Homo sapiens: one gene and its partners. The protein of the gene in region 1 interacts with the protein of each later gene in a pairwise test. Each region holds a gene or a part of one and is shown on either strand. Other genes may lie near its edges.

What was found.
Region 2: the proteins of ESRP1 (region 1) and RBPMS2 interact in binary tests that used the Homo sapiens proteins (3 or more experiments, as listed by UniProt).
Region 3: the proteins of ESRP1 (region 1) and PLD1 interact in binary tests that used the Homo sapiens proteins (3 or more experiments, as listed by UniProt).

Annotation. Positions count from the first base shown.
Region 1 is NC_000008.11:94,658,039-94,665,465, reverse strand, and holds part of ESRP1 (epithelial splicing regulatory protein 1), read right to left. Parts: intron 3,195-7,427; coding exon 3,096-3,194; intron 2,966-3,095; coding exon 2,911-2,965; intron 770-2,910; coding exon 659-769; intron 540-658; coding exon 407-539; intron 313-406; coding exon 270-312; intron 1-269. UniProt on the Homo sapiens protein: mRNA splicing factor that regulates the formation of epithelial cell-specific isoforms. Specifically regulates the expression of FGFR2-IIIb, an epithelial cell-specific isoform of FGFR2.
Region 2 is NC_000015.10:64,765,358-64,772,784, forward strand, and holds part of RBPMS2 (RNA-binding protein with multiple splicing 2), read right to left. Parts: intron 1-7,427.
Region 3 is NC_000003.12:171,681,252-171,688,678, reverse strand, and holds part of PLD1 (phospholipase D1), read left to right. Parts: coding exon 1-3; intron 4-1,094; coding exon 1,095-1,308; intron 1,309-1,880; coding exon 1,881-1,994; intron 1,995-7,427. UniProt on the Homo sapiens protein: Function as phospholipase selective for phosphatidylcholine. Implicated as a critical step in numerous cellular pathways, including signal transduction, membrane trafficking, and the regulation of mitosis.

The DNA.
Region 1 (7,427 bases):
ACTTCATATCACCTTTTCACCTTTGTATAGTACTATTTTTAATGGCTATTTAACTATAGTAAGTTGGCTCAAGCCTTAGGACAAGTGTTATACATTAAGCTCACTGTTATTATCGGAAGCTTCTACCTCTGGGGAAGAAAATCTATTCCCATGTTCCATTAGAAAATAAAAACCATTCATGACCCTATTCACCTACTCTTGCTAAATTTAAGTATGCAAAATTTTTAGATTCTTATTAACTAAAGCCACATTATGTAAAAGGCACTTACCACCAGCAATTTTAAGGAAATCTTCACCTGTTGCTTTGTAAACCTGAGAAAAGACAGAGAAGTTAGTGTTTCTGAGCCTTCCGTCCTATGTTAATTCTCATTCACGATGTCCAGGGGTTCAGGTTTTGAGGACATACCTCAATATACCGGGTCCCCATGTGATGTTTGTGCCTCTGTAGTGCTAGGTCTCGGTGCTCCTCACTTACAAACCTAACCAGAGCTTCTCCGTTCCTTCGACCCTGAGCATTCAGACAAAGTGCTGCACCTCCCCTTTGAGAATAATAAAACAGACAGCAGGTAGAAAAAAAAATACAGTGAGGAAAAAAAAGATAGAAAATCCATTATCCCTTTGGGATTGTTAAGTAAAATAGATATTTAAGAAAACCAACTTGGCAATATTGAGTCCTTTGAAGAATCTTGCAATATCTTGATCTGAAGACTGCCATGGTAAACCTCGTGCCCTGACTACGGTGTTATCATCAATAAGTTCCATCTTGCTGCTGTGGATGAAGCAAAACTTCAGGTTGCATGATAAATGCTAGCAAGTCAGACACCTATTACCCCCTGCAAGACAACTGCCTAGTTACACAGGATGTATTATTTGGTGTTCAGACAGACTAGCAATACTACTTGATTTTCCTTATAACCTCAAAAATTATGTGGGTACAACTCAAAGTACTGTTTAGGTGGTTCATTATAGAAACATGGCTGCCTGTGCAGGCCCAACACAGCTAGCTCACTCAGCAAACCATCTATCTATCAAAGCTGAGGAAGGCCAGGCGTGGTGGCTTATGTCTGTAATCCCAGCACTTTGGGAGGCTGAGGTAGGTGGATCACCCGAGGTCAGGAGTTTGCGACCAGCCTGGCCAACATGGTAAAACCCCGTCTCTACTAAAATTACAGAAATTAGCCGGGCATGGTGGTGTACGCTTATAATCCCAGTTACTTGGGAGGCCAAGGCAGGAAAATCACTTGAACCTGGGAGGTGGAGGCTGCAGTGAGCTGAGATTGTGCCACTGCACTCCAGCCTGGGCAATAGAGCAAGACTCCCTCTCAAAAAAAAAAAAAAAAAAAAAGCTGAGGAAATGTTTGCTTGGCACCCTCATGTCCTGAAAGTTCCTAGAACCCCAAAAGATAGGTTTGAATTCATTCTCAAATCTAGACAGTATACATGTGGGGTTTAAATCCAGTTTAGCAGCCGAATTTAGGATCAGAATAAAGCTGACAATTAACCCACATGAGGAATGTGTGTGCATGGTAGGAAGTCTGCCATTAAAATATCCCCCAGATCAAACCAGGGAGCCATCCCAGAGAATGTCCATAGAAATGCCTGTGAGTCCCTACACCTTAATGACTCATTTGCAAATCACTTATTATATATTTTGACACCTTTTGATGTCTTATCCCTCCCACGTTCACATTTTCAGTTCTCCTAGGACATTTTCTTAATAAGTCACTTTCTCCACAACTAATCGGCCTCAAAGTCTCTCTCTATGGGCAAAGCTGTCAGAAGTTTCTATTCACTTCAGAGACCAAGCACACACTCAATTCATTAGAGTGATTTACAAACAGGTCTACCTGCGATCACTAACAGACACCACTTCATACTTCTCCCCAGCTATTTCCTTGGCTTTAAAGTAGAAACCTATATAGCCAGGCACAATGGCTCACACCTGTAATCCCAGCACTTTGGGATGTCAAGGTGGGTAGATCACATGAGGCCAGGAGTTTGAGACCAGCCTGGTCAACACGGCAAAACCCCATCTCTACTAAAAATACAAAACTTAGCCAGGCATGATGGTACACATCTGTAATCCCAGCTACTGGGAAGGCTGAGGCACAAGAATCGCTTGAACCCGGGAGGCGGAGGTTGCAGTGAGCAGAGATCACACCGCGATATTCCAGCTGGGCAACAGAGCAAGTGTCTCAAAACTAAAATAAATAAATAAATAAATGTACTTATAGAATGTACGTAAAATTTTATCTCAGTAAAAATTGTGAACTCTATTAAAGCCTACAATTTCTCCTTTGGAAATTTTCTAAATGAAAGATCGGATAGTTTGGGGAGACCAAAATAACAATCACAGATATGAGCATATAATATACTTAAGGTCAGGGTGACTAAAGATGCCAGTAAGTCATTACATTTTATTCCCAATATCAAGCTCTAAGTAATACAACCTTCTTTTACAGATGACCGAACAGCAAGAAAGGATAGCTAAAAGGATTAGTAAAGTTTCTCAAATATAACAAGAATTAAGAGGCACAATATGAACAAAAACAAGTTAAAGGCCGGGCGAGGTGGCTCACGCCTGTAATCCCAGCACTTTGGGAGGCGAGGCGGGCAGATCACGAGGTCAGGAGATTGAGACCATCCTGGCTAATATGGTGAAACCCCATCTCTACTAAAACTACAAAAAAATTAGCCAGGTATGGTAGCGGGAGCCTGTAGTCCCAGCTACTCGGGAGGCTGAGGCAGGAGAATGGCATGAACCCGGGAGGCGGAGCTTGCAGTGAGCTGAGATCGTGCCACTGCACTCCAGCCTGGGCGACAGAGCAAGACTCTGTCTCAAAAACAAACAAACAGACAAAAAAAAAAAACAAGTTAAAAAGCTCAAATAAATAGTACTCAAGCACTTACCAAGTTCCACTTTCAAACTTGTAATTCACTCTCTCTGGATCTGAAAACCTGTGATCTAAAAATGAGAACATAAAAGTCATCATTTTAGTGATTAGGGAGACAAAGTTGTAGGAGGAAATTTGAGTATAGGTAAGAGAAAAATAGTATGAATTCTGGGACTGCACTACTATAAAAGCAATACTTACTATAAGGCTCTGAAATCATTGCTAAAATTATATTCCCCATATCTTCAACTTGAGAGGCTCCATATCGAGAGACTGAACTACTCTTCTCAAAATTTAAATCTGTGAGATTAAATTAAGGAAACACTTTGGAAAGGTAAAATCAGGTTACTTCTAAATCAAAATTAAACCTATACCAAGCCAAGAGGAAGAAGATGGATCTAGCTGAGCTTCCTTTAGAAATCTCAGAATGGCTGCCTCCCATCAGTCAGTCATTCAACTTAGGCTCCAACTGCCCTTTTGGGTAAAAGAGGCAAATCAATCCAGTGCTGAGATATTACCAGGAATACAATTTTTATTTACCCAGTTGTAGCAAATGAATACTGAGCATTTTCATTTCATTTTGAATCAAAGTATGCAACAAAGTTAATTAGAATATTTCATCCTCTGAATCTTTACAGCACACACAAGGCAATGACCATGCCGACTTCATGATATGGTGACATTATCAACACTACAAGGTATTAAATGACTTTTTTTTTGGCCTAATGTTTGAAATGGACACCACAGATTATTGATGTGACATTACTTCCACAATGCCACTTTTGCTTAGAAATTCTATTATAGAACACTTTTGGAGCCCTGTAGGATAGTCCACCTTTGATGACAGCAGATGCTAGTTCTAGACAGCAAATTTTGGAAACAATTCAAGCACTCAGAGCCAACACAGGCCAATGTGCTTCTTTACCAAAAGTATACTCTTTGAAACACATAGCTCAAACTTGGTTTGAGGGTGAAACCAGGAATTCACATGAAGTTTTGCGAATCTCTCTAAAATAAGGATGTATTTCCATCAAATAGAGGCATACCTTGAAAATATGGTAGGCTTGGTTCTACACCACTGCATTAAAGTGAATATCACAATAAAGCAAGTCACACAATTTTTTGTGTTTCCCACTACATATAAAAGTTATGTTTTGACTGTTCTAAGTATTCAATAGCATTATGTCTTTTAAAAAATGTACATGCCTTAATTCAAAAATGCTTTGTTGCAGATGGGCACAGTGACTCACACCTGTAATCCCAGCACTTTGGGATGCCGAGGCGGGAGGATCTCTTGAGACCAGGAGTTCGAGACCAAGCCTGGCCAATATGGTGAAACCCCATCTCTACTAAAAATACCAAAATTAACCAGGCGTGGTGGTGCATGCCTGTAATCTCAGCTACTCAGGAGGCTGAGGCAAGAGAATCGCTTGAACCCGGGAGGTGGAGGTTGTAGTGAGCTGAGAACACCCCACTGCACTCCAGCCTGGGCGAGAGGTAGACTCTGTCTCCAAAAATAAAAAACAACAGAACAACTTTGTTGCTAAAACATGTTAATCATCTGAGCCCTCAGTGAGTCAATCTTTTTGTTGGTGGAGGATCTTACCTAGATGTTGATGGCTACTCATAGATCAGGGTGATGGTTGCTAAACGTTGGGATGGCTGTGGCAATTTCTGAAAATAAGACAACAATGAAGTTTGCCACATCAATTGCCTCTTCCTTTCATCAAAGATTCGGTAGCCTGTGATGCTGTTTGAGGGCACAGGCAGAGTTGACTTACTGTAATTCTTGGTTTTCTTTGGTTTTTTGTTTGTTTGTTTGTTTTGGTTTTTTTTTTTTTTTTTTTTTTTTTTTTTTTTTTGAGATAGTCTCGCTCTGTTGCCCAGGCTGGAATGCAGTGGCACAACCTCAGCTCACTGCAACCTCTACCTCAGCCTCCCGAGCAGGTGGAATTACAGGCACGCGCCACCATACCCAGCTAATTTTTGTATTTTTATAGAGATGGGGTTTCACCATGTTGGCCAGGCTGGTCTCGAACTCCTGACCTCAGCTGATCCACCTGCCTCAGTATCCTAAAGTGCTGGGATTATAGGCGTGAGCCACTGCACCCGACCTCATTTTTGTATTTTTTAGTAGAGATGGGGTTTCACCATGTTGGCCAGGCTGGTCTTGAACTCCTGGCCTCAAATGATCTACCTACCTTGGCCTGCCCAAGGGCTGGGATTACAGCCATGAGTCACCACCCCGGCCAATTTAGCATAATTCTTCAGAACGCTAGGATTTTTAGGACGGTTAATGACCATTAGCTTTAACTTAAAAGTCACCAGCTACATTAGCCTATAACAAGAGAATCAGCTTTTGAAGCAAAGCATTGATTTATCCTCTCTAGCTATGTTAGTCCAGGATGGCATCATCTTCTAAGAGAAGGCTGTTTCTAGTACATTGAAAATCTGCTTAGTGTAGCTGCCTTCATCAGTTAGCTAAATCTTCTGGGTAACTCACTGCAACTTCTCCATAAGCACTTTCTGCTTCACTTTGAATTATGTCGTAGAGCTGACTTATTTCCTTGAATCTCATAAACCAATCTCTGCTAGCTTTTCTTCTGCAGCTTCCTCACTTCTCTCAGCCTTCATAGAATTGAAGAGACTTAAGGCCTTGCTCCAGATTGCGCTTTGGCTTAAGGAAATGTGGTAGCTAGTTTGATCTATCCAAACCACTCACACTCTCTCCATATCATAGCAATAAGTATATTCCATTCAAATTACACTTTCCTCTCTTCTATAAATGACAAGTGGTACCCAGCCTTCTCATCTTTGCTCAGGTAACACCCTATAATGTTTTGCTTTCTTATCATTCATATATTCACTGGAATATTCAAGAAATTTTCCTTTACGCAACTTGACAAATCATTTGGTGCATAAGGCCTGGCTTTTGGCCTCCCTTAGCTTTTGACATGCCTTCCTGACTAAGCTTAATCATGTCTAGCTTTTGATTTAAAGTGAGAGATATGAAACTCTTACTTTCATTTGAAAGGTTAGATGCTGTTGTAGGGTTAATTGGCTTAATTTCAATATTGTGTTTCAGGGAATAGGGAGTCCCAAGGAGAGGGAGAGAGATGGGGTAACCACCAGTTGGAGCAGCCGAACACACACAACACTGACCAATTAAGTTTGCCACCTAATATGGCCCTGCTTTATGGTGCCCCAAAACAATTACACCAGTAACAAAGATCACTGATTACAGATCGCCACAACAGAATAATGAAAAAGTTTGAAAGGTGACAGAGAGACAAGTGAGCAAATGTTGTTGGAAAAATGGTGTCAATAGACTTGCTGAATGCAGAGTTGCTACAAACCTTCCATTTTCTTTTTTTTTAAACAAAACAAAACTGGCCAGACACGGTGGCTCACGCCTGTAATCCCGGCACTTTGGGAGGCCGAGGTGGGAGGATCATTTGAACCCAGGAATTCAAGACCAGCCTGAGATAGCGAGTCCCCATCTCTACAAAATAACAAATTGGCCTGTCATTGCATCTACTCAGGAGGCTGAGGTGGGAGGATTGCTTGAGCCTGGGAGGTCGAAAAGTACACCACTGCACTCCAGCCTGGGTGACAGAGCAAGATGCTGTCTCAAAAATAAAAGATGAAAATTTAAAAAAAGACAAAATACAACAACTGTGAATCACAATAAAGTGAAGCACACTAAAACAAGGTGCACCTGGGTGAGCAGACCCTAATGTGCTCCGCAAAACCTAACATTGACTTTCTAGCCCCTTATAGCAAACGGTTATTGACCTGTGACCTATTACAGAAGAATGGAGATTGCAAAAAGATGGCCAGATACAAAGGATGCCACAGGAATGTTTGTCAATCAATCTCAAAAAAGAATATGGGGAAAATTTAGACTTGAAAGGAGTATAAAAGTATATTCCATTCAAATTAAGCTTTCCTCTCATCTATTAATGGCAGGATTACCTAGCCTTCTCAACAGTGCTCAGGTACCACCCTATAAGGAAAGCACTCTTATCTTAATCCCCTAACCAAATTAGGCCACAAATGACCCACCAAAACTGTTCTAGGCCACAATCGTCAATTTAAGAGTTCATTAGATACTATTCCTAAAATGTTATGCTATTTTCTCGACTGTTGTAACATTTCCTGGGTGTAGGCCCCCATCTTCCTCTGATCTCTTTCCACCTATCAACATCTCTATAGCTTCCAAGGATCTGCTGACTTAAATGGTGGCATTTACTGGACACCATTTTGTGCCAACCACTCCCTATTTCTTCCAATTCTCATAATAACCCTGACAGATAAATTACAGCAAAACCAAACAGTTGTAGAACTAAGATTTAGTGAGGCTAGGCATGGTGGCTCACGCCTGTAATCCCAGCACTTTGGGAGGCCGAGGTGGGTGGATCACTTGGAGGTCAGGAGTTCGAGATCAGCCTAGCCAACATGGTGAACTCCTGTCTCGACTAAAAATACAAAAATTAGCCGGATGTGGTGGCGGACGCCTATAATCCCAGCTAC
Region 2 (7,427 bases), on another chromosome or scaffold:
TAAGATGAGATCACGCCACTGCACTCCAGCCTGGCGACAGAGCAAGACTCCGTCTCAAAAAAAAAAAAAAAATTAGCCAGGCATGGTGGCATGCACCAGTGGTCTCAGCTACTCAGGAGGCTGAAGCTGGGGGATTGCTTGAGCCCAGGAGCTCGAAGCTACAGTGAGCCGTAATCATGCCACTACACTCCAGCCTGGGCAACAAAACGAGATCCTGTGTCAGAATAAAAAAAAGGGCGGGGGGGGACCAGTCTGGGCAAAAACTGGAAGGTGCAGAGCCTTTTCATCAATAGTTCTTCAAAAATGGGCCAGGCACGGTGGCTCACACCTGTAATCCCAGCGCTCTGGGAGGCCGAGGTGGGCGGATTACGAGGTCAGGAGTTCGAGACCACCCTGGCCAACATGGCGAAACCCTATCTCTACTAAAAATACAAAAAATTAGCCAGATCGCTTCTCTGCCTTTTGGCTAAGATCAAGTGTAAAAAATTAGCTGGGCATGGTGGAAGGCACCTGTAATCCCAGCTACTCAGGAGGCTGAGGCAGGAGAATTGCTTGAACCTGGGAGGCGGAGGTTGCAGTGAGCTAAGACTGAGCCACTGCACTCCAGCCTGGCAACAGAGCGAGACTGTCTCAAAAAAAAAAAAAATGGTCTCAGCTCCTATGCCAGTATCCTCTCCTAACTCCCTGCCCCTACCTGCACTAAAAGATAGTTGAGGAGGGGGAGGTTGGTTAACCACAAAGAAGGGCGAAGTACTCCAGACTTCTGCCATGGCCTGGTCCAAGTCAGGCTCTGTCCGTCCTCCTTGGAGGTTGGAGGTGGCCTTGATAGCTTGTGACAGTCAAGAGCCTCTGCTCAGTTGGCCGTGAGTTGACTGACAGCCAAGGCAGATGCGCCTAGGCAAACGCTCCCACCACACCCAGGCCCTGCTGCACTCCAGAGGCCTCCAACGCTGATACAGCCACCAGTGCACTCTTCAGGAAGGGAGGGCCCAACAATCCTGTCACCTGTCTAGTGTTGGCACGTATCAGAAGTAACCGTACTCTCTCCATCAAAGGGTGGAATATGGGAAGAAGCAGAATACAAGGAGGCTATGCCAGTGCCTGGACAGGCAGTGGACGGGTTCTGGCATATGAAGCCTCATAGGCTGCCCACAGTTCTGACTTAATGGTGGCTTTTTTTTTTTTTTAAGATGGAGTCTCGCTCTGTATCCCAGGCTGGACTGCATGACGCAATCTCAGCTCACTGCAAGCTCTGCCTCCCGGGTTCACGCCATTCTTCTGCCTCAACCTCCCTAGTAGCTGGGACTACAGGCGCCTGCCACCACACCCGGCTAATTTTTTTTTTGTATTTTTAGTAGAGACTGGGTTTCACCGTGTTAGCCAGGATGGTCTCGATCTCCTAACCTCGTGATCCACCTGCCTCAGCCTCCCAAAGTGCTGGGATTACAGGCCTGAGCCACTGTGCCTGGCCTGTTTTTGTTTTTTGAGACCAAGTCTCATTAAGTGGCCTCCGCCTCCCAAGTTTAAGCAATTCTCCTGCCTCGGCCTCCTGAGTAGCTGGGATTACAGGTGCTCACGGCCACACCCAGCTAATTTTTGTATTTTTAGTAGAGATGGGGTTTCACCACATTGCCCAGGGTGGTCTTGAACTCCTGGGCTCAAGTGATCCACCCACTTCAGTCTCCTAAAGTGCTGGAATTACAGGCATAAGCCACCGAGTTTTTCGGTTTTTTACTTTTTTTTTCTCTCTTTTTTTTTGAGACAGGGGCTCTCACTCTATCACCCAGGCTCAAGTGCAGTGGTGGGATACTGGCTCACTGCAGCCTCGACTTCCCGGGCTCAAGCGATCCTCCTACCTCAGCCTCCTGACAGGCTGAGACTACAGGCGTGTGCCAACATGCCCAGCTAGGCAGCATCATTTCTGAAGTGTAGGGGACAGGTTCTGCCCCACTGCCTCATGGTTTGCCAGAGGCGTGTGGATCCTTCTGTGGCAGCCATGGGCGGAAGACAGAGGAAGTGACGTGACACCAGATGTCGCTGCTGCCCATAACCAATGCCAGAGCAGATCCAGAACCCAGCACTGTAGTTCAGTTCTGGGTAATCTTGGACCAGGAGCTCAGTACTCAGGGCAGGCAGGACTCACCCTGCCTCCAGCTCGCAGGATTGTCCTGAGGCCCCGAAGGATAAAAGGGTTCAGAGCATGAGAGCCAAGCAAAGGCTCAGCACCCACCAGCCATGGCTTCCTCTACTTACGGCGCTTGCCAGTCCCACCCTGGACATGGGGAGGAGGAAGCCAGCATGTCCCAGCCTTGAGTGGGATTTTTTTTTCTTTTGAGACAAGGTCTCGCTCTGTCACCCAGGCTGGAGTGCAGTGTGGCACGATCTCACTGCAACCCCTGCCTCCCAGGTTTAAGTCATTCTCCCACCTCAGCCTCCTGAGTAGCTGGGACTACAGGCATGCACCATCACACCCAGCTACTTTTTTGTTTTTGTAAGGACGGGGTTTAATCATGTTGCCCAGGCTGGTCTTGAACTCCCAGGCTCAAGTGATCCTCCTGCCTTGGCCTCCCAAAATGCAGGGGATTACAGGCATGAGCCAACATGCCTGGCTGGCCTCCTTGAGTGGGATTTAGAAACTGGTTCTCTCTGGGGCAGACTAAACAGATTGCCCGTATGTGGAAAAGGAAGGGATAACGAGACACAAAAGAATGTCCCCCAGAATATCAGCCAAATGGCTCTTTAGAGCAAGAATCGTTTCTTTAGTTAAAATGCCCAAAGCAATGGGTAGTGGAGGAGTGTGTGAAAGTAGTCACGCCCAGGTACAGGAAATAAGTAAGTGTGCCATTTGTAGAGAATTTAAAATAAAACTGCTTGGGCGTGGCAACTCACATCTGTAACCCCAGCAGTTTGGGAGGCAAGGCAGGACAATCGTTTGAGGCCACAAGTTCGAGAGCAGCCTGGGCAGCAAAGCAGACACTGTCTCTACAAAAAATTAGCCGAGGCCAGGTGCAGTGACTCAAACCTATAACCCAGCACTTTAGGAGGCCAAGACAGACGGATCACCTAAGGTCAGGAGTTCGAGACCAGCCTGCCAACATGGTGAAACCTCATCTCTACTAAAAATACAAAACTTAGCCAGGTGTGGTAGCGGGTGCCTGTAACCCCAGCTACTCGGGAGGATGAGGCTGAAGAATCACTTGAACCCAAGAGGCAGAGATTGCAGTGAGCCGAGATTGCGCCACTGCACTCTAGCCTGGGCAACAAAGCAAGACTCTGTCTCGAGGAAAAAAAAAAAAATTAGCTGGGCATGGTGCTGGTAGTCCTACCTACTAGGGAGGCTGAGGTGGGAAGATCATTTGAGCCCAGGAGATCGAGGCTGCTGTGAGCTATGATCATGCCACTGCACTCCAGCCTGGGCAACAACAGAGACCCCGTCTATAAAAAAAAAAAAAGGAATTTAAGGCCGGGCGCCGTGGCTCATGTCTGTAATCCCAGCACTTTGGGAGGCCAAGGTGGGTGGATCACCAGGTCAGGAGATTGAGAACATCCTGGCTAACACGATGAAACCCCGTCTCTACTAAAAATACAAAAAAATTAGCCGGGCATGGTGGCGGGCACCTGTAGTCCCAGCTACTTGGGAGGCTGAGGCAGGAGAATGGCGTCAACCCGGGAGGCGGAGCTTGCAGTGAGCAGAGATCGTGCCACTGCACTCCAGCCTGGGCGACAGAGCAAGACTTCGTCTCAAAAAAAAAAAAAAAAAAAAAAAAGAATTTTAAAAATATGCAAGATGTGTAAGGATATAGATTTTTTAAAAAAGAATTTAGGTCAGGTGCAGTGGCTCACATCTGCAATCCCAGCACTTTGGGAGGCCGAGGCCTCCCAACATGGAGAAACCCCATCTCTACTAAAAATACAGAATTAGCTGGGCGTGGTAGCACATGCCTATAATCCCCCTACTTGGGAGGCTGAGGCAGAAGAATTGCTTGAACCCAGGAGGTGGAGGTTGCGGTGAGCCGAGATCGCGCCATTGCACTCCAGCCTGGGCAACAAGAGCGAAACTCCGTCTCAAAAAAAAAAAAAAAAAGAATTTAAAAAATAAAATCCATCCTGGCTAACACGGTGAAACCCCATCTCTACTAAAAAATACAAAAAATTAGCCGGGCGTAGCAGCGGGCGCCTGTAGTCCCAGCTACTCTGGAGGCTGAGGCAGGAGAATGGCGTGAACCCAGGAGGCAGAGCTTGCAGTGAGCTGAGATCGCGCCACTGCACTTCAGCCTGGGCGACAGAGCGAGACTCCATCTCAAAAATAAATAAATAAATAAAAATAAAATAAAACTGGCTTGGTTTGTTTATTATCTTCGTGCAATGGCAACTCTAAATCATATCTGTGATAAAAGGCCCCTCCTGGCAGGGGCTGACAGCTCCCATCACCCATCTTGGGATGCCACCAGCCCAAAGGAAACTAGTCCGGAGTCAGCCTCTGGGCTTCTGGTTGGCATCACCCAAAACTCAGCCATTAGAAACTTTAATTGCAGATACCCGGCTGGGCGCGGTGGCTCACGCCTGTAATCCCAGCACTTTGGGAGGCCGAGGCAGGAGGATCAGGAGGTCAAGAGTTCGAGACCAGCCTGACCAACACAGTGAAACCCCGTCTCTGCTAAAAATATAAAAATTAGCTGGCCGTAGTGGTGCGCGCCTGTAATCCCAGCTACTTGGGAGGCTGAGGCAGGATAATCGCTTGAACCTGGGAGGCAGAGGTTGCAGTGAGCCAAGATCATACCACTGCATTCCAGCCTGGGTGACATGGCGAGACTCCGTCTCAAAAAAAAGAAAAAAAAAAGAAAATTGCAGATACCTTTCTCCCCCTGCCTTCCAGTCTCACCAAAAACCCTAATATAAAACACAATAGCAGTATACTGTGTGGTTAAGAGCAAACTCTGGGTTCAAATCCCAACCTCCCCACTTAATAGCTACATGAAAGTTATTTAACCTCTCTGTGCCTCACTTTCCTCATTTATGAAATGGTGATAATAATGTAAGTACTTCATAATGCTCTTACAAAGATTAAGAGTTAAAATGGTGCAGAACATATAACAATGCCTGGCATAAATACAACATACAGGTTCATTATTATTAGTACAGCCTCTCCCTTAGATTACTTAGGCAGAGGGGACACATCCACAATAACTCCCAGTGAGGAGGGGAACCTGACCTCCTACTGCTATATGCCTGGCAGGGCTTCTAGGTGAGTGCCCAGAAACAGAGAAGCCTCCATTCCCTCATATTCAAAAAAAGCCTGCAGACCAAGATGTCCCAGATGCTTTCAAATGCTATTGATGTTAAAGAAAAGGGAGGTGCCCAAATAGCACACTGGATCCAGGAATTACCTCGCACTCATCTAGAGTGCCTTATCCCCCACCTCCCACACCCCCCTCCCCGTTCCATCCACACAAGTCTAAGCACCTGTTCACCCACATCTCAGGGAGGGCTGACCTCAAGCCACCCAGTGGTCCCAGGGCTCTGGCTGCTTCCTGACACCCCTCTGAGGACACATGATGGGCTCTAGGATACCAGGCCTGCAAGCAGCAGCCCTGTCCCAGCCACACTGGGATGAGGTGGAAGGGCAGGGAAGGGCAAAGCCCCTCAGGTCAAACTGTAGCCCCCTTAGCTGCCATTAACCCCTGCCTTTCTATAGCTTACCATTAAGCTGGCAAAAACTTTTTTAACTCTTAAGAAACTTATATCCTCCCTCAACCCAATAGTATAAATACCACTCTCCCCCTTCCAGGGGTGCCCCCCAGTTAAAAATTACTTTAACAATCTCCAAACTCTTCAAGTTGTATACACTAAATATACACCTTTATATATGCCAATCATACCTCAAAAAAGTGGTTTTTAAAAATTACTATAACTTAGTATCACCTCGTACCGTTTAGTTGTCCCTCGATATCTGAGGCGGATTGGTTCCAGGGTTCCCCCTTGGATATCAACATCTCCAGATGTTCAAGTCTCTTATATAAAATTTGTATATAACCTATGCACAGGCCGGGCACGGTGGCTCACGTCTGTAATCTCAGCACTTTGGGAGGCCGAGCTGGATGGACCACTTGAGGTCAGGAGTTCAAGACCAGCCTGGCCAACATGGTGAAACCCCGTCTCTACTAAAAATACAAAAATTAGCCAGGCATGGTGGCGTGCACCTGCAATCCTGGAGGCTGAGGCAGGAGAATCACTTGAACCTGGGAGGAGGTTGCAGTGAGCCGAGATTGCGCCACTGCACCCCAATCTGGGCAACAGAGACTGTCTCAAAAACAAAACAAGGCTGGGCGCCGTGGCTCAGGCCTGTAATCCCAGCACTTTGGGAGACTGAGGTGGGCAGGTCACCTGAGGACAGGAGTTCAAGACCAGCCTGGCCAACATGGTGAAATCCTGTCTCTACTAAAAAACAAAAATTAGCCAGGTATGGTGGCGGGCACCTGTAATCCCAGCTACTCAGGAGGCTGAGGCAGGAGAATTGCTTGAACCTGGGAGGCAGAGGTTGCAGTGAGCTGAGATTGTGCCACTGCACTCCAGCCTGGGTGACAAGAGTGAAACTCCCCTTCAAACAAATAAAAAAATAACCTATGCACATTTTCTGGATACTTTAACTCATCTCTAGATTATTCACAATACCTAATACAATGTGAATGCTATGTAAATAGTTGTTATATTTATTTGTATTATTTTTTATTATTGTATTTTTTATCTACAACTGGATTCATGGATAGGGAACCCATAGAAATGGAAGGCCAACAGCAACTGTATTATGAAAGCAAGGTCTCCACTTTCAAAATAGAAATCACATTTACCCCTCTTCAGAGACATGGTAATTACCCAGTTATCCCTTGAGAATCACTAAGACAGGACATTTAGGTCTGAAGTTTGGCAGCACTGATACAGCCTGCCCCGGACAGGTTCATGTACTGTATTACCTCATGTCGTCCCCAGCTCCAGTCAAGACTTACCTGCAGGACAGCACAACCTCTAGATTGGGAGGGACATTCAGCTCCTCCCCTTAATTCCTTACTGCCCTCCTTAGCTTTCAAAGGGTATCAAAGCTTCGAACACATCTTCCCAAGTGGCAGAAAAATGCCAATTTTCCCGTAATACCACAGTCATTACTGCCCTAATTCCAAACTCTCATTATGGCTGCACTGCCTGATATTGCTGCAATATAGCAAACTCCAGGTAGTTACCCAAACAAGCCATGTGGTTACACAAACCTACCTCCTCACTTATACATGCGACTCCCTCCTCTTGGAATGCCTTTTCCACCCCCACAGGTCTAACCTTGCTCCTCCTACTCACCCACATCTCAGGGAAGGCTGACCTCTAATCTCTCAGGAGCACCATGGTACCATGTGCTCATATGCCTTTATTTTATCTAT
Region 3 (7,427 bases), on another chromosome or scaffold:
CCAGTAAGTATATTTAACCTTTATGGAAATGTATAACACGAACATAATTTGTATAAGTTTGTATTAGTAGCATGACTGATTGATTCATTGAATAAGAGATGGTGTCTCCTTGGAGGGGAAAAGAACATTTTAAGTCAATCATGAGACAGACCTGGTTTCAAACACCAGCTTCCCCACCTAGCTAGCTGTAACTTAGCATTGCTGAGTCTGTTCTTCTCTTGTAAGAAAAGAAAACAGATTCAGTGGAATTTTGGCTGTCCCATATTCAGCTTTGTTTTCCATTTTAATTAAGATTTATTTTTTATTCAGAAATAAGATTCATAAACAAAAATATGTGGCAATTGAGATTTAGGTAGTAAAAAGCCTTAAGTATCTGCCACAGTTTTTGGAAAGTTCCTACTTAAAGATATACAAAAACAGGATAGGTCAGTCTGGGGTCATTTAGAGGGAATTTGAGCCAGAAGTGAATAACTTCCCAAAGTGCCTTTTAAATAGAGCTGCCAAAATATCTGTATGTGTATATCAATCTGCTTGCTATTTCAACTAAATGGCTGCCAGAATATGAATACACTTATTAAAAAAAGTGTATATCAATCTGCTTGCTATTTCAACTAAATGGCTGCCAGAATATGAATACACTTATTAAAAAATTTGATGGGCTTCATCTTATTTACTGCTGGAAAATAGTGCAAAACTTATGCAAAAATAGCAATTTAGTGCATAAGGAACAGGGAAAATGATTGACAGAGGAAGCCTTGCTTACTTAATGTTTATTAGAGGAACAAGTTCAGGAGCTCAACACTGAATGTAACCCATGTAATTGTATTTGAGATTAAAAGTTTAATTGGAGTGAAATTTCAAGAATTTGGCCTACTGAAAAAAGACCATAGCAGAACTCCTCATATTCCTTTGGTAGTTTTTAAACAGTTCACAAGAATCCACCACTACCCTGTGGCTGACCTCAGACATTATTGCATGTCTGTTATAGAACCTCCATCATTTGTAAACTTTATACTTCAGCTCTACTTGAATTAAAGAACCACACTGCAGCATGTCTTATGCAGTGTCTTTTTTTAAAAAAAAATTTTTCTCAGCCTGCCGCAATGGAGTCTATGGAATCCTTAAGACTCAAAGATAAAAATGAGCCTGTTCAAAACCTACCCATCCAGAAGAGTATTGATGATGTGGATTCAAAACTGAAAGGAATAGGAAAGCCAAGAAAGTTCTCCAAATTTAGTCTCTACAAGCAGCTCCACAGGCACCACCTGCACGACGCAGATAGCATCAGCAGCATTGACAGCACCTCCAGTAAGTCATGGCCTTGACTAGAATTTATCTTAACTACCCACTGTTCTTCCATAGCCAGACACTACATACCTGTTTTTAAAATCTGTCTTTCTGTAATGGAGTAGAATGAGCAATGTTGAGAGGTCGCTATATCATTCTATTCAACCTCATGCCATTTGGTGGCTTTGTTTGCCTCATTTTAGAACAGATTTATTGTTTTATCCACACAAAAGTCATAACGACCACGATTACCACTTCTAATGGTAGCAGAATGACAAAGGGTTTCTAAAATATGCCAAGCCATAAAAGAAAAAGGTATTAGATGTACTTTATAAACTTTTCTTAGAAGAAATTACATTTATCTTCCTATCCAGAAATATATCAAGCTTATTTCGTCAAACATCAGACTTTCTACATCTTGTAAATTTACTATTCCTTTGAAATCCATCTTAAAGCCCTACAATTTTCTGTTGCACAGAATCTTAAGACTGATGTTATAGCCCTGCCTGGTTTTAAAAATGATCAGCTTTGCTTTCCAGTTTAGAAAATTTGATATTTGTATTTTTTTGTAAAAAAATTCTTAATTTCTCTAGGTTATTTTAATCACTATAGAAGTCATCACAATTTAATCCATGGTTTAAAACCCCACTTCAAACTCTTTCACCCGTCCAGTGAGTCTGAGCAAGGACTCACTAGACCTCATGCTGGTAAGTAATTTGTGAAGTGGCAGAACTCCCTTAGGCTTGAGCTTTGGTTGTGTTGTCTGCTGCATGGGCATAGTGAATGTGTTTCCAGATTGGCTTTCTGTTTGCAATTTTTATGCTACGTATATTATTGAGAGCCTGCTCTGTGCAAAGCATTCTGTAGTATCCAAGATCCCTACTCCCTAAGAACTTATAGCAGCAAAGACAAAACAGACCTAATAAGAGAAAATGCATGGCACATGCAATTCAATAGTGTCATGGAAGTTCTATGGAAGGAGGGAGGAATTCCTCTCTGATGATGCAGAAAGACTTTTTGAGGAGGGGACATTTGGGTTAGGCCTGGAAGTAATTTAATTGGGGTAGGTGATAGGAAGTCATTGCAAGTGAGGGAGGTGAGTTGAGCAAAGGTGCTGGAATGGGAAAGCACCAACTGCTTTCAAATTGTGTAAAATGCATTATTTAGCTAAAATGCAGTTTTTGATATAAGACTAAGAAGATATATGACATTCACATTTGGGAGCTGGAATTTTATTTGGTTAAAAATCTTTTTTTTTTTTTTTTTTTGAGATAGAGTCTTGCTCTGTCACCCAGGCTGCAGTGCAGTAGGGCCGTCTTGGCTCACTGCACCCTCCGCCTCCCAGGTTTTAGCGATTCTCCTGCCTCAGCTCAGCCTCCTGAGTAGCTGGGATTATAGGCGTGCATGACCGTGCCTGGCTAATTTTTGTACTTTTAGTAGAAATGGGGTTTTGCCATGTTGGCCAGGCTTGTGTTGAACCCCTGACCTCAAGTGATCCGTCTGCCTTGGCCTCCGAAAGTGCTGGGATTACAGGTGTGAGCCACCGCTCCTGGCCAGTTAAAAATCTTGAAGGCCTTTGGGTGGATGTGTCATGCTGTGTGAATTTTCAGAAATTACAATCTGATAGCCTTTGGTAAGAAGATACTCCAGATACTCGAGGAATTAATGAATGACTAATAAGTTTAACTTGTGGTGGGAATAAAGAAGGATTTGGCCGCTGGTCAGATATGGGGATAAGTAATCATCATAATAAATGACACTAGTAAGATCATAAGCTAACATTTATTTTGCACAGACTCTATCCATCACTGCCCTGAGTAGTTGCAGTGCTTGGTAGTGATATTGTCATCTCCTTTTTACAGATGAAGAAACTCAGGGTTAGAGATGATACATGACCTGCCCAATGGAGTTCCAATTTATCATCCTCCCAGTGCCCATAATTAAGACCTGTGATTTAGCAGAAATAAAGATTACTATGTTATGCTTTTTTGGCTAGAACCTAAGGCCAGGGCTCTCATGTCCTGTTTAGCAGATGAGAGTTACAGTCTAGCTCACATGCCTGAATGTGAGTCACCTGTGGCTTGCAGGTGCTAATGAACCTGAAAAATTATGCTAGACTTTGAGTAATGATTCCCAGCATTCTTTCATCTAGGGCAGGGGTGTCCAATCTTTTGGCTTCCGTGGACCACATTGGAAGAAGAATTGTCTTGGGCCACACATAAAATATACTAACACTAATGATAGCTGATGAGCTAAAAAAAGTTGCAAAAAAAAATTACAATGTTTAAGAAAGTTTGTGAATTCGTGTTGGGCCACATTCAAAGCCATCCCGGGCCGCATGTGGCCCACAGGCTGTGGGTTGGACAAGCTTGGTCCAGCTACGCTGCATTTTAAAAAATGCAATAATCAACTACACACAATGAACTAAAACTTCAGTGTAACTGTTAAATAAATTTGTGTCTATAAATCATAACAGCATCGATATATATTTAAGAATGGAGAAGAGGCCAGGTGCAGTGACTCACACCTGTAATCCCAGCAATTTGGGAGGCTGAAGCAGGAGGATTGCTTGAGCCCAGGAATTCAAGACCATCTTCGGCAACGCAGTGAAACCCCCTCTCTACAAAAATTAGCTGAGTGTGGTGGCATGCATCTGTTGTCCCAGCTTTTCTGGCAGCTGAGGTGGGAGAATTGCTGGAGCCTGGAAGGCAGAGGTTGCAGTGAGCTGAGATCATGCCACTGCAGTCCAGCCTGGGTGACAGAGGGAGACCCTCTCTCACACACACAAAAACAATTTTTAAATTTTTGAAAAATAAAAATGGAGAAGAACAAATATGGGGAGACATATATTTATTTAGCATACACCTAGTACTGGGTGTATGTGTGGATTCAGGGACAACTCCCAGTAATTCCTGTGCATGACAAAGCTTCAAAGTCCTGGGAAGTAGGAGGCCTCTGGGAAATCTAGGAAGCCAGGTCAAGAGTGCATGCAGTGGCCGATATTAGAGGTAAAGGGTTGGAAACAGCTCCAGGTAGTGCCTTATCGTTTCAATGTGTAACTTTGCTGCTTTATTACTGAAGTTAAAAATGAAGTGGAGGAAAGGAGGTTGCCAACCCATGAAGATTATGGATCTGAATTATGACTGATAGTGTTGCTGGCAATAGGATTGACAGCAAGTGGAAAAGATGTGAGTGAGGTGCTGAGTCCAGTAAGTAACTCACGCCTACCCCAGGTTGACAGAGGTGATATCCACAGTGGTGATCTGAGACACTGATCATACATGTGTATGGTGTTGCTGATGAAAAGTACCCTTGACATCTGTTTACAACCCCTCACTGATAAACTGAATATATGTCTAGTGTAGCATTGTTGAGAGACAGAGAGAGAGATAGAGAGAGAGAACAACCTAAACGTCAAAGAGTAGGGAAATGGTGAAGAACATAATGAATGGTAACAAATGGTTCATCTCTTTTATGGAATTGGGCAATGATTACAACTGTAGTTGGGGATACAAAAATAAACATAGAAGATTTATTTATTTAATTAAATAAGTGTTTATTGAGTTTCTGTTATATGCCAATCACTATTCTGGGTGCTAGAGATGTGGTGAATAAAACAGATGAAGTGCAATTAACTAGTTGGAGGGTAAGGATGGGAACTGTGTATACAAATAGAGAGTCAAACACATTTCAGGTGGTGATAATTATCACGGAGAATAGTTGAGCATGATCCGGGAGGAAGAGCATAGGAGAAGAGTTACTATTTTGTAAAGGCTCATCGGAGAATACATCTCTCATGAGGTTAGTTTTCAGCTGACATCGAAAGAAAGAGAAGAATGAGGATAAGAAACTGAGAGAGGGTGTTTCCGACAGAAGGAATAGCAAGTATGAAAGGCCATGAGGTAGAGGGGTTGGGTGTGTTCCAGGAATACGGCTGTAGTGAAGTGGGCTAGGAGAGGATGATAAGAACAAAATCAGAGAGGTGGGCTGGGGTGGGTTATGTGAGGTCTTGCAGACCACTGTAAGATTTTGACCCTGAGTGAGATAGGAAGTCATCGGATGGTCTTGAGCGAAGGGTAGGCGAGGGCTGACTTACATTTTCCAAGGATCATTCTTCAGAGCAGACCAGGGTGGCAAATGGTGACTCTGCAGGTTGTGAATATATTTTGAGGGTCGAGCTGACAGCATTTGCCGATGAACTAGATACAAGATGTGAGAGATGGAGAGGACTCCAAATCTTTGGCCCCACTGGAAAGATGGAATTTCCATGAACTGAAATGAGGTGGCTATGGGAAGAGCAAGGAAAATTTGAGGACAATTGCCACTGTATCAAAATATGTTCGTGAAGGCAGCTGACAAAGGACATTCAATGATGCTATCTTTGTTAGGAAGATGGAGCGTGAGGTGATTTATTTTTTTCCCACATTGTTGGTACTGTTTTCATTTTACTTTTATAGTCAAATATAAATACAAATTTAATTTTTTAAAATGAAAACAGTTTACCTAAAAAGAAAAGCCAAAGGATCATGGGGTCCTTCTAGAGCAGTGCTTTCCAAAGTCGATTCCTTGGATCCTGGAGTTTTTAAAAGGCTTTGAGGAGAACATTGAAGTAGGTGAACCCCAGGACCCTCCCACAGCTATTGGTACCTCTTCAACCAGAACAATCCCACTTGTATCTGTTTTAATTATTGGAGTTCCTTCTGAACTTGTTTTCAAAAAAGAAAAGTTCTACTAAAAAAATGAAGGAAGTTTAAAGAGCAAGGCTCTAGATTTAAATCATGTAATACCTTAAAAACTCAGGTTGCCTTATAAAACTTGAAACCCAAATTAAGCATGGAGTGACTCTTCGTTAGAAATTTAAAACTGAATATGAACTTGAGTTAATGACTTCCTTTTCCTGAGAATGCAAAGAGAGTTAGCCTCTCTGCAATATCAATTTCACTTGACCGCATATGACCATGTTGAATTGGGCTCCTTGTTGAATTAAACCTCCTGGTGTCATACAGAAATCAGTGTGGAGTGAACATCACTATGGGTTTTTATATAGAAAAACTGCACTAAAAACGTGGTTAGGAATCATATCTGAAATATATGTTTTTCAAAATCACTCAGTCATTTTCAAGATTTTTTTTCATTCAGAATTATGTTCTAAGAGGGAGAATTTTGCTTGATACTATTTTTAAAGTGTTGAATTTTATTCCCTTTCTTTCTTTCTTTCTTTCTTTTTCTTTCTTTCTTTCTTTCTTTCTTTCTTTCTTTCTTTCTTTCTTTCTTTCTTTCTTTTTCTTTCTGTATTATACTTTAAGTTCTGGGATACACGTGCAGAACATGCAGGTTTGTTACATAGGTATACAAGTGCCACAGTGGTTTGCTGCACCCATCAACCTGTCATCTACATTAAGTGTTTCTCCTAATGCTATTCAGCAACTATGTGCTGATCTTTTCCTTTTAAGCAATATTAAATAGGTAAGTGAGGGAAAAATTATTTTTGCAATTTAGTTGAGACAGGCTTTTCAAATTTGAATGTCTCGTCACAAGGGATAATATTAAGCTGTTTCTAAACTGTTCTTAGGAATGCAATGGATAGGATGTGTAAGATTCATCTAGTGCTGTTAAATAGCTTGTTATCTAATAGGTGAGCATGAGTTTTAAATATTTTACAAACCTAATATTTTAGTAATTCATTGAGGGAAGATACTCCTACTGCAAGAGTCATCATTGATCCACAGACGAAATACAGGTCTACAAACCCTTAACCACGATTCTAAATTCCAAAAAATTTTGAAAACCAAAATATTTTTTAAAATATAACTTGTTCAGTGCCTGTATTGGAACTGGCCTTGAACATATGTAGAAATTCGGTAGGTAGAGACTAAAAAGGTAGAAAAACAGGCATTTTAGGTAGATACTACATCTTAAGACCCAGATATAGGAAATGCAAAAGTATTTATTTCGGCATCTCAGACTGAGTGTAGAATGTGGTAAATACATATAGGTCTATAATCTCTCATACAAAATCCTTGGAATCAGATTTCAGAAATCAGAAAGTTCTGGATTTTAGAAAGGTAATACAATACCTATACCCTCTACTATATTACACTCCCAGCAGGATCCAGGAAATACCTGGAATGTAGGCAAAC